3 separate regions of the Homo sapiens genome follow, and all the other regions are reported to be linked to region 1. The links are microRNA targets in miRTarBase. Many come from high-throughput screens and were not tested one by one. Region 1 holds a microRNA gene; each other region holds the end of a gene's coding sequence.

Region 1 (3,148 bases):
CGGGGAATCCCTTGAGCCCAGGAACTGGAGGCTGCAGTGAGCTATGACTGTTCCACTTCACTTCAGCCTGGGTAACAGAGTAAGACCCTGTCTCTAAAAAAAAAAAAAAAAAAAAAAGGAATTATAATAATAATTTTTTTTTTGAGATGAAGTCTCACTTTGTCGCCCAGGCTGGTGTGCAGTGGCACGATCTCGGCTCACTGCAACCTCCACCTCCCGGGTTCAAGCGATTCTCCTGCCTCAGCCTCCCAAGTAGCTGGGACTACAGGCACCCATCACCATGCCCAGCTAATTTTTGTATTTTTAGTAGAGACGGGGTTTCACTATGTTGGCTAGGCTGGTCTCGAACTCCTGACCTCGTGATCTGCACGCCTTGGCCTCCCAAAGTGCTAGGATTACAGGCATGAGCCTCTGTGCCTGGCCATAAAAAATTTTAAAACACACAAAAGAATCCTTCTTAATCCCGCCACCCCAAATCTCTGTATTATGTTAACATCTTGGTTTGTATCCTAGATGGCTGGATGAATAGATGAATGGATGTTTTTTAGTTTTTAGACAAAGGTGGAATCATGACTCTGTTCTTTTGCTTGCTTTTTAAAAGAAACTAGATGAAATACACTCTAAACATCTTCCCATGTCAACAGAATATCATTTTTTTTCTTATCTATTCTTCACCATTCATCCTAAACCCACATTGTTGGCTTCAAGTAAACTCACCCTCAAATAGTAATTATCCCTTCTATTTGCCTATCTTTTTATAGCTTTGATTCCCACAAGGCTGTGAGATAGGCAGGAAAAGGATTATCTCTACTTAACAGATAATTTTAAGAGTTAACAGTTTGTTCAGGGTCATATAGGGTCAAGTAGGAGAGCCAAGATCCAGAGCCCATCTGTTCAATTCCAAAGCCCATGGGCTTTCCATTACATCCCATTGCCTCATACTATGTATCTGATTGTGTGGCACGGACTTAAAAGTTAAGCTAACCTGGGTACCAATCCTGGCTCCAACAATTCCCAGCTATACAACCTTCAAGCAAGTTAGCTAAGTCCCCTAAGCTCAAGTTTCTTGTAGGGTGTGGCGAGAATGACTTGATAAAATTCACATCAAATACTTAACATGGTAGCTGGTGGTTACTGCTGAGGGCTGACTGACCCATTCATGTCCAGTGAGTAAGTCTGACAGGGCTGTGCTCTGGCTTGAAAGAGGTCCTGTACGCTCTGCCAAACCCTAAATTCCTACCCATATTCCCATCCCAATTACAAGCAGAATGAGGACCTGCCAGTGCTACTTTAGACATAGAACAGAAACCTTCCCACTTAGCCTGGTGCATCACGGCAGGAAGCTACAAGACAAAGCCAGGCCCTGGGGCTCCCAGTTAGAGGAAGTGAGAAAAAGACGTGTACCCTGGGAAGAAAAAGGGATGCATTTCCGTTCCCATCCAAGCCTCACTTCCTTAGAAAGACATTTCAGGTAGATTAACACACCATCTCTGTGCTGTTTTCCATATGCCATTTGGGGGGGCATTTTGTGGTTATTTTTAAGAGACTGCACTTGTAACAAAACAAAAAGTAAGCTTTCTGTTTTCCTTTCTGGGTCATGAGCTGGTCTCAACCCTCCAAATTCAACTGTCACTGGAAGTCTTTGTGGAGTTGGAATTTCTATTGGGAGTGGCTGTGAAGGTAGGAAGAACATCAGCAAATGTGGTGATATGGTTTGAATGTGTTCTCCCAAAGTTCTTGTGCTGGACACTTAATCCCCAATGCAACAGTGTTGAGAGGTGGGAACTTTTGGAGGTGACTGGATTGATGTTATTATTGTGGGAGTGAATTTATTTAAAAAGTAAGTTACCCTCCCTCATGTGTTCTCTTGCCATGTGATGCCTTCTATCAGGTTACTATGCAGCAAGAAGGTCCTCCCCAGATACAGCCCCTGATCTTGTACTTCCCACCCTCCAGAACCATGAGCCAAATAAATTTCTTTTCATTGTAAGTTATCCACTTTTTTTTTTTTGAGACAGGGTCTCACTCTGTCACTCGAGCAGGAGGATTGCTTAAGCCTGGGAGGTCGAGTCTGCAGCAAGCTGTGACCACGACACTGCAGCCTTGACCTCCCAGGCTCAAGCAATCCTGCCTTAGTCACCCAAGTAGCTGGGACTACAGGCATGTGCCACCCCACCTGGTTGATTTTTGTAATTTTTGTGTGTGTAAAGACAGATTTTGCCATGTTCCCCAAGCTGGTCTCAAACTCCTGGGCTCAAGCTCAAGTGATCTGCCCATGTTAACCTCCCAAAGTGCTGGAATTACAGGCATGAGCCACTGCACCAGGCCCCAGTTTCAGGTATTCTTATAGCAGCACAAAACAGACTAAGACAGACACACAATGTCATAAAAATGAAGGAGAAGAGGGGCTTAAAAAGAAAGAAGGCACTCTGAACTTTTCCTACAGATAAACTCACTTATATAGGAAACTAGGAAGTTATTCAAAGGGTGATGTAGAGTTAGATAAGCAGATAAGAAACAATCTCCAAGACAGAGGGGAATAATGCAAGATACAGAAATTGTACACAGCATGCTAACATCCTTGTGTGTGATGTAGACTATTTCTGGGCCTGAACACATCTTCTCTAGAAGGTCACACAAGAACCTGGTTGCAATGGGTGTCTCTGGGAAGGAGAACCAGGAAGCCTAGCTAGGAGCCATGGGTGAGGGGAATCTTAATTTCACTTTGTAGCTTCTGATGCTGCTTGAATATTTTATTTTTTCACATTTTTTTAAAGGAGAAAGGATTAGAGCACCTAATAATATGGTGAGGTCAAGAAAGATGAGACAAGCTTATGAGAAGAGGCAGTTTTCAGGTCATTGATGACTCAATGAGAAAAATATCAATAGGATGGCGGGAGCAGAAGCCAGATTGCACCAAACTGAGGAAACAATAAATTGTCATCAAGTGGAAATAGCAGGAACTGGCAACTCTTTCAAAAGTGTGTTTGTATGCAAAGTAAGGTAGGGTAGTAATCATAGCAGTAGTAAGAGTAGTAGTAAGGAGGATTCCCAGGTTTGAGGTAGGGGATTTTTAACATGAAAAAGACATAGCAGGTTTATGCACAAAGGAGAAGGCCAGGATAGAGTCAGAAAGGACAGCTGCTGT
Region 2 (3,000 bases), not on the chromosome of region 1:
TGTTGGTGGAAATACATTTATTTAGTGGGGAAGGAAATAAATTCTTGATGAAATTGTAGAGATTTTTTCCTTAGTTTTGCTTGGAAAGGGAGAGTGTGGTATAGTCAAACAAACAAACAAAAAACAGTGGCCTTTGACTTGTAACCTTGGGAAAGTCACTTAGTCTCTCAAGGCCTCAATTTTCACTGTAAAATGAAGAAATTGGCCTAGCTAGAGGAACCCTGATGTTAGTCCTTTCCTAAAATGCTGATGTTCTGTTCTGTGAATATATTATTTTAATTTTCATGTGAAAGGTAGATAAGGAGACAAAATGTTAATGAATATTTATTTTATCAACTCGTTTTTTTCTTCCTATTTCAGGATGGAGACAACAGAAAATGGAAAAGCCAGCCGGCAGTGAAGAGTGACTTGAAGAACTAAATTTAGCATATTGCAAAAATATTTTGTGCGGAATTCGATATAAGTACTTTTACAGCAAGATGGTATAGTTATGTTGCCTGGACTGGTTTTTACATTTTTAAAATATTTCAGCTGTCATTTTTGTACTAATTATAAAATTGGCACATAATTCAAAAATATACATTTGAGATGATTTGTCCTCCCAAATTATACAAGTTTATTTTATGGTATAAAGTGTTCTCTCTGGAAATGTTTTTAAAAAAATTCTTAGGCTTCTCTTTGCGAAATAAAACTATTAAAATATTTGAAATGCAAAACATTGGAGAATTACTTTAGAAGATACTTTAGTTACTTAATGACTGAAAACAACCTATAGGAATTTTTAAAAATTTGATGAGAGTTTAAGATTTGCAATACTTAATATAAAATTTTGCCTATTAAGCTGCATCATATATTGTGCTTTTCTAAAAAAGAACATTGTTTTTATCTTGTTTTAAGTTATTTTGCATATGTGTTCTTACCCATTTAAAAGTAGAGCTTTCAGGTAGGTTGTATAATTTTATATTTACTAGTATTGGGTAGTTTTACTCTTTATATTTTTCTGCAAAATATTTTCCATCCATTTGCTTTTCTTATTGAAAGAGAAGCGTAAAGGAAATTACTTCACAGATTTAGAAGAAAGAAAAGTTACTAGGTTGATTTTATCTCTGGATAGAATCTTAGTCTCATTTCTCAGAGATGTCATGGTTACATGTTATATGTTTCTTGGGCCTTTTTCCTGTGCTGCTTCATCTAGAAGTTTATAACATGTTACAAAAGGTAGGTTATTTCAATGTTAAATGCTAATTGTAAGTTTGCCATTTTTTTCCTTGAGTGTTTATTAGAGAAAGGAAGCTCTTTATACAGACTCAGTATTTTCTTTTTTTTTTTTTTTTGAGACGAAGTCTCGCACTGTCGCCCAGGCTGGAGTGCAGTGGCGCGATATTGGCTCACTGCAACTTCTGCCTCCCGGGTTCACACCATTCTCCTGCCTCAGCCTCCCAAGTAGCTGGGACCACAGGCGCCCACCACCACGCCTGGCTAATTTTTTGTATTTTTAGTAGAGACAGGGTTTCACCGTGTTAGCCAGGATAGTCTCAATCTCCTGACCTCATGATCTGCCTGCCTCGGCCTCCCAAAGTGCTGGGATTACAGGCCTGAGCCACTGCACCCGGCCCTCAGTATTTTCTATTGAAAAAAAAAAAAAAACAACTGGTCTTTACACAGGGGTTCAGCAGCCTTCCAGGTCAGCCTGGTGAAATTGACATTGCTCTCCTTTATCAACTCCTGTCTCATTCTCAGTCCTCTTCCCTCAGATAGAGCTACTTTTACTCCATTCCACTGTGTTTAGATATACATTGACACAAACCATACACAGGCAGGGCCAGGCCTAATTAACATCTTAGACTTTCGGGGTTTAAGGAACCATAACCCAATAGCTAATTAATAGATCATATTTACTTTTCAGTGGGCTCTGACCTTTTATTTATTTATTTTTAAATTATACTTTAAGTTCTGGGATACATGTACAGAACGTGCAGGTTTGTTACATAGCTATACGTGTGCCATGGTGGTTTGCTGCACCCATCAACTCATCATCTACATTAGGTATTTCTCCTTATCTTATCCTTCCCCTTGTTCCCCCACCCCCCCGACAGGCCCCAGTGTGTGATGTTCCCCTTTCTGTGCCCATATGTTCTCATTGTTCAGCTCCTACTTATGAGTGAGAACATGCAGTATTTGGTTTTCTGTTCCTGTGTTAGTTTACTGAGAATGATGGTTTCCGGCTTCATCCATGTCCCTGCAAAGGACATGAACTCATCCTTTTTTATGGCTGCATAGTATTCCATGGTGTATATGTGCCACATTTTCTTTATCCAGTCTAACATTGATGAGCATTTGTATTGGTTCCAAGTCTTTGCTATTGTGAACAGTGCTGCAACGAACATACGTGTGCATGTGTCTTTATGGTAGAATGATATGTAATCCTTTGGGTATATACCCAGTAATGGGATTGCTGAGTCAAATGGTATTTCTGGTTCTAGATCCTTGAGGAATTGCCACACCGTCTTCCACAATGGTTGAACTAATTTACCCTCCCACCAACAGTGTAAAAGCGTTCCTATTTCTTCACATCCTCTCCAACATCTGTTGTTTCCTGACTTTTTAATGATTGCCATTCTAACTGGCATGAGATGTGATCTCATTGTGGTTTTGATTTGCATTTCTCTAATGACCAGTGATGATGAGCTTTTTTTCGTATGTTTGTTGGCCACAAATGTCTTCTTTTGTGAAGTGTCTATTCATATTCTTCGCCCACTTTTTGATGGGGTTGTTTTTTTCTTGTAAATTTGTTTTAAGTTCCTTGTAGATTCTGTATATTAGCCCTTTGTTCGATGGATAGATTGCAAAAACTTTCTCCCATTCTGTAGGTTGCCTGTTCACTCTGATGATAGTTTCTTTTGCTGTGCAGAAGCTCTTTAGTTTAACTAGATCCCATTTGTCAATTTTGACTTTTGTTTCCATTGCTTTTGATGTTTTAGTCATGAAGTCTTTGCCCAT
Region 3 (3,000 bases), not on the chromosome of region 1:
CAGATTTTTCCCTGAAGTGACAGACTCACTTTGTTCCTTTTTAGAAAAGTTCTGCCAGCTACCTAAATCTGATAACCACAGTTTGTCGGCCATTCTTTTGAGTAAACGTGGCATTCCATAAAAGAGCAGCTAGTTCAGCTCACAACTCAAAGAATGGCCTAAGTTATTTCCTCCAGAAAACCATCATACTTTGGTATGCAAAATGTCTTATGCATACTTCCCACTTTATCAGACAGAATGTTGAAAAGCCTTTTCCTTAAGGATTAAGGTTTAATTAAATTAATACATTTAGGCTGGGCGTGGTGGCTCACGCCTGTAATCCCAGCACTTTGGGAGCCTGAGGCAGGCAGATCATGAGGTCAGGAGTTCAAGACCAGTCTGGCCAACATGGTGAAACCCTGTCTCTACTAAAAATACAAAAATTAGCTGGGCATGATGGCATGTGCCTGTAATCCCAGCTTCTCGGGAGGCTGAGGCAGGAGAATTGCTTGAACCGGGACACAGGAGGTGGAGGTTGCAGTGAGCCGAGATCACGCCACTACACTCCAGCCTGGGCTACAGACCGAGACTCCGTCTCAAAAAAAAAAAAAAATTTTTTTTTTTTACTTCATCAAGGACATTTTTTTTGAGTCTTGCTCTGTTGCCCAGGCTGGAGTGCAGTGGCGTGATCTTGGCTCACTGCAACCTCCGCATCACAGGTTCAAGCAATTCTGGTGCCTCAGCCTCCCAAGTAGCTGGGAATTACAGGTGTGCACCACCATCCCCAGCTAAGGAAAATAATGTCTTGGTATTTTTATGAAAATAATTTTGACCTATGGACCCCTGAAAAGGTCTTAGGGAACCCTAGGGGTCTGAGGACCACATTTGAAGAGCTGCTGGTTTAATAGGTTTTAAAGCCTCTCCCCAGATGGCTCCCAAGGTATCACTAGTGAGAAGTATGTGATTGGTCCCAGTTCCTGAGGACATGACAAGGAAATGGTAACAGGAGTAAGCAGCTGTCCTGGGCTCCTAGCTGGAGTTCAAAGTCTAGACTGCCACTTGTCGGGGAGGTTATAGAAGGGATTTGATCTCCAAGGTCCTCAACTGATACTATGACATTGAATCTGGGATTAGGGAGCCCCCACAGTATGTACTGGAGTTGCCAGTCCTCTGCGTCAGAGAAGTGATAATACATCTCAATTTTCCAGTGCTTAGCACAAGCATGGCTTAGTAAATATTGAATGAATGAATCACAGGTGATAGGAGTGATGGTAGGAGGTTGGCACCATCCCTAATGGGCTGTCCTAGAGTTCCATCTACTTTCTTAGAGAAGGGCTCTCACTCCGTCACCCAGGCTGGTGCACAGTGGCACCATCATAGCTCACTGCAGCCTTGAACTCCTGGTCTCAAGCAGTCCTCCTGCCTCAGCCTTTTAAGTAGCTGGGATTAGAGGCTCGAACCACCGTTACCAGCTACATTCCATCTACTTCAAGCTTTCCCTAATGTGGTGGGAGTAGAAGGTGTTAGTAGCAGATGGGTGGCGTTTGTGTTCTACTTGAGGAAATAATGTACTGGGCGGTAGGGCTGACTAAAGAATCACGCATGAAAATAGTTGCCAACCTAAGACGACTGTCAGAGAGTCCATGCATTATGGACAGAGTGGCTGGATGGGGACGTGGAAGCACACAGCATCCACCTCTCTGACTGCCTCTTTCCACTGACCCACCAGATAAGCAGGGTGGCTGGAACAGGGCTGCTAGCACCTTCCTGGCCACTAGGGGAGCTCTGCCCCCTCTAACAATAAATTCTCACACCTGGGTCAAGCTCTTCACTTTTAGCGCTACCCTAGGCAGGAGTGTCCCAACCCAATCAAGAGCGGTGCCTACCCGAGGCAGCCTCAAGTTGGGATTTTTCTGCTTGCTAATGGCTTCAATCAGTTTTGTGGCCATAGTTCTCTTAGGCTCAGACACTTACAGGCATATTATTTTTAGCAAAGCTTCTTTTGAAAATTTGAATTTGGTCAAGGACTGGATTTGTTGACATACCCTGAGTAGCTATGAAGAACAGAATGTCCTGGTAGCCACAAGGAACTGTGGTAGCTGCTGTCCCAGCAGCAGCAGAACGACACTTTGTGAGGCTTAGGTGCTGGCCAGGGAGGTGAGGATAACAGGAGTATGACTTCTCAGGCACAACTTCCCCATTGGATAACTTTAGGGTCCGGGTGCAAGGAGGAAGGGACCTCAGGTGCAGACTGCCAGTCTTCCCCTCTCCCATTTCAAGCTGGATCAAGCTGGGTGACAGAATTCAACCCCACTGTCTCTCCTACTGCCCTGGGAGAAAACTTGTATCTCCCTTGAAGCCAGGCAGAGGTTGTAGGTAGAATCATTTTTATTGGAGCATGACCTGTTTGGGGCTTATAACTCTGCAGCCCCTATGGGTAGCTGGGGGTGGGGGAAGATAGTATCAAAAAACGGTGAAGAGAGCTGATGAGGCTGTGGGGACTGGCCGGAAGCTGCTGGCAGGGTGGAGTGGGCTGGGGCCCCGGCAGATTCAGATCGAGGTACAGCAGCGTTAATAATACTCTTGGAGCGTTAATACTCTGGGGAGGGGCAGGCACTTGGGGGGCCCTAGGGCATGAAGGCACTTGGGGTTGGGGAGGGGACAGGGGATGTACTGCGGGACTGGGCGGGGCCAGGCCCTGGGGTTTGGCAGGCACTTTGGGGAGTGCTGGGGTTGGGCAGGTTGGGCCCCGACAGCCCAGAAGGCTTTGGTAGTGGCACGCACAGTCTCTGGGCCGGGTCTGCATTAAATAGAAGAGGCTTCTTTAGTGCTCATCTCGAAGCTCTGAAGGCAGAAACTTGTACTGCTGCTGCCGGATCTGGGCCAGTTTCTTCCGCGCCTCTTCCAGCTCTCGTTCCTTCCGAAGCATTTCTTCCTGTGCTGCGATGATCTGAGGGTGGAGATCGGGGACTTAGTTCAGTGAGGATGCACAGCAGGGGCATAGGGTAGTTGGGACCAGCG

The links. The annotated mature microRNA hsa-miR-1273h-5p reads CUGGGAGGUCAAGGCUGCAGU and lies in region 1 at 2,095-2,115, opposite strand. An mRNA with a match to its seed (bases 2 to 7 or 8) in the 3' UTR can be bound and repressed. Matches are read on the target gene's strand: a 7mer-m8 pairs with bases 2 to 8, a 7mer-A1 pairs with bases 2 to 7 and ends in A, and an 8mer does both.
Region 2: miRTarBase lists INTS13 as a target of hsa-miR-1273h-5p. Seed matches in the 3' UTR shown: 8mer at 598-605.
Region 3: the mRNA of TLN1 is a reported target of hsa-miR-1273h-5p. The part of its 3' UTR that is shown has no 7-base or 8-base seed match.

Annotation. Positions count from the first base shown.
Region 1 is chr16:24,202,115-24,205,262 of GRCh38, reverse strand. It overlaps MIR1273H (microRNA 1273h), which reads right to left and starts at 2,147; the gene lies at 2,032-2,147. All of the region lies in intron 16 of PRKCB (protein kinase C beta), which reads right to left.
Region 2 is chr12:26,902,897-26,905,896 of GRCh38, reverse strand. INTS13 (integrator complex subunit 13) reads left to right here. Exons shown (of 17, transcript NM_018164.3): 17 at 361-716. The coding sequence ends at 400. Among named protein-coding and RNA genes, the nearest start is that of INTS13, 34 kb to the left of the region's middle.
Region 3 is chr9:35,694,988-35,697,987 of GRCh38, forward strand. TLN1 (talin 1) reads right to left here. Exons shown (of 57, transcript NM_006289.4): 57 at 1,961-2,929. The coding sequence ends at 2,804. Among named protein-coding and RNA genes, the nearest start is that of TPM2, 6.6 kb to the left of the region's middle.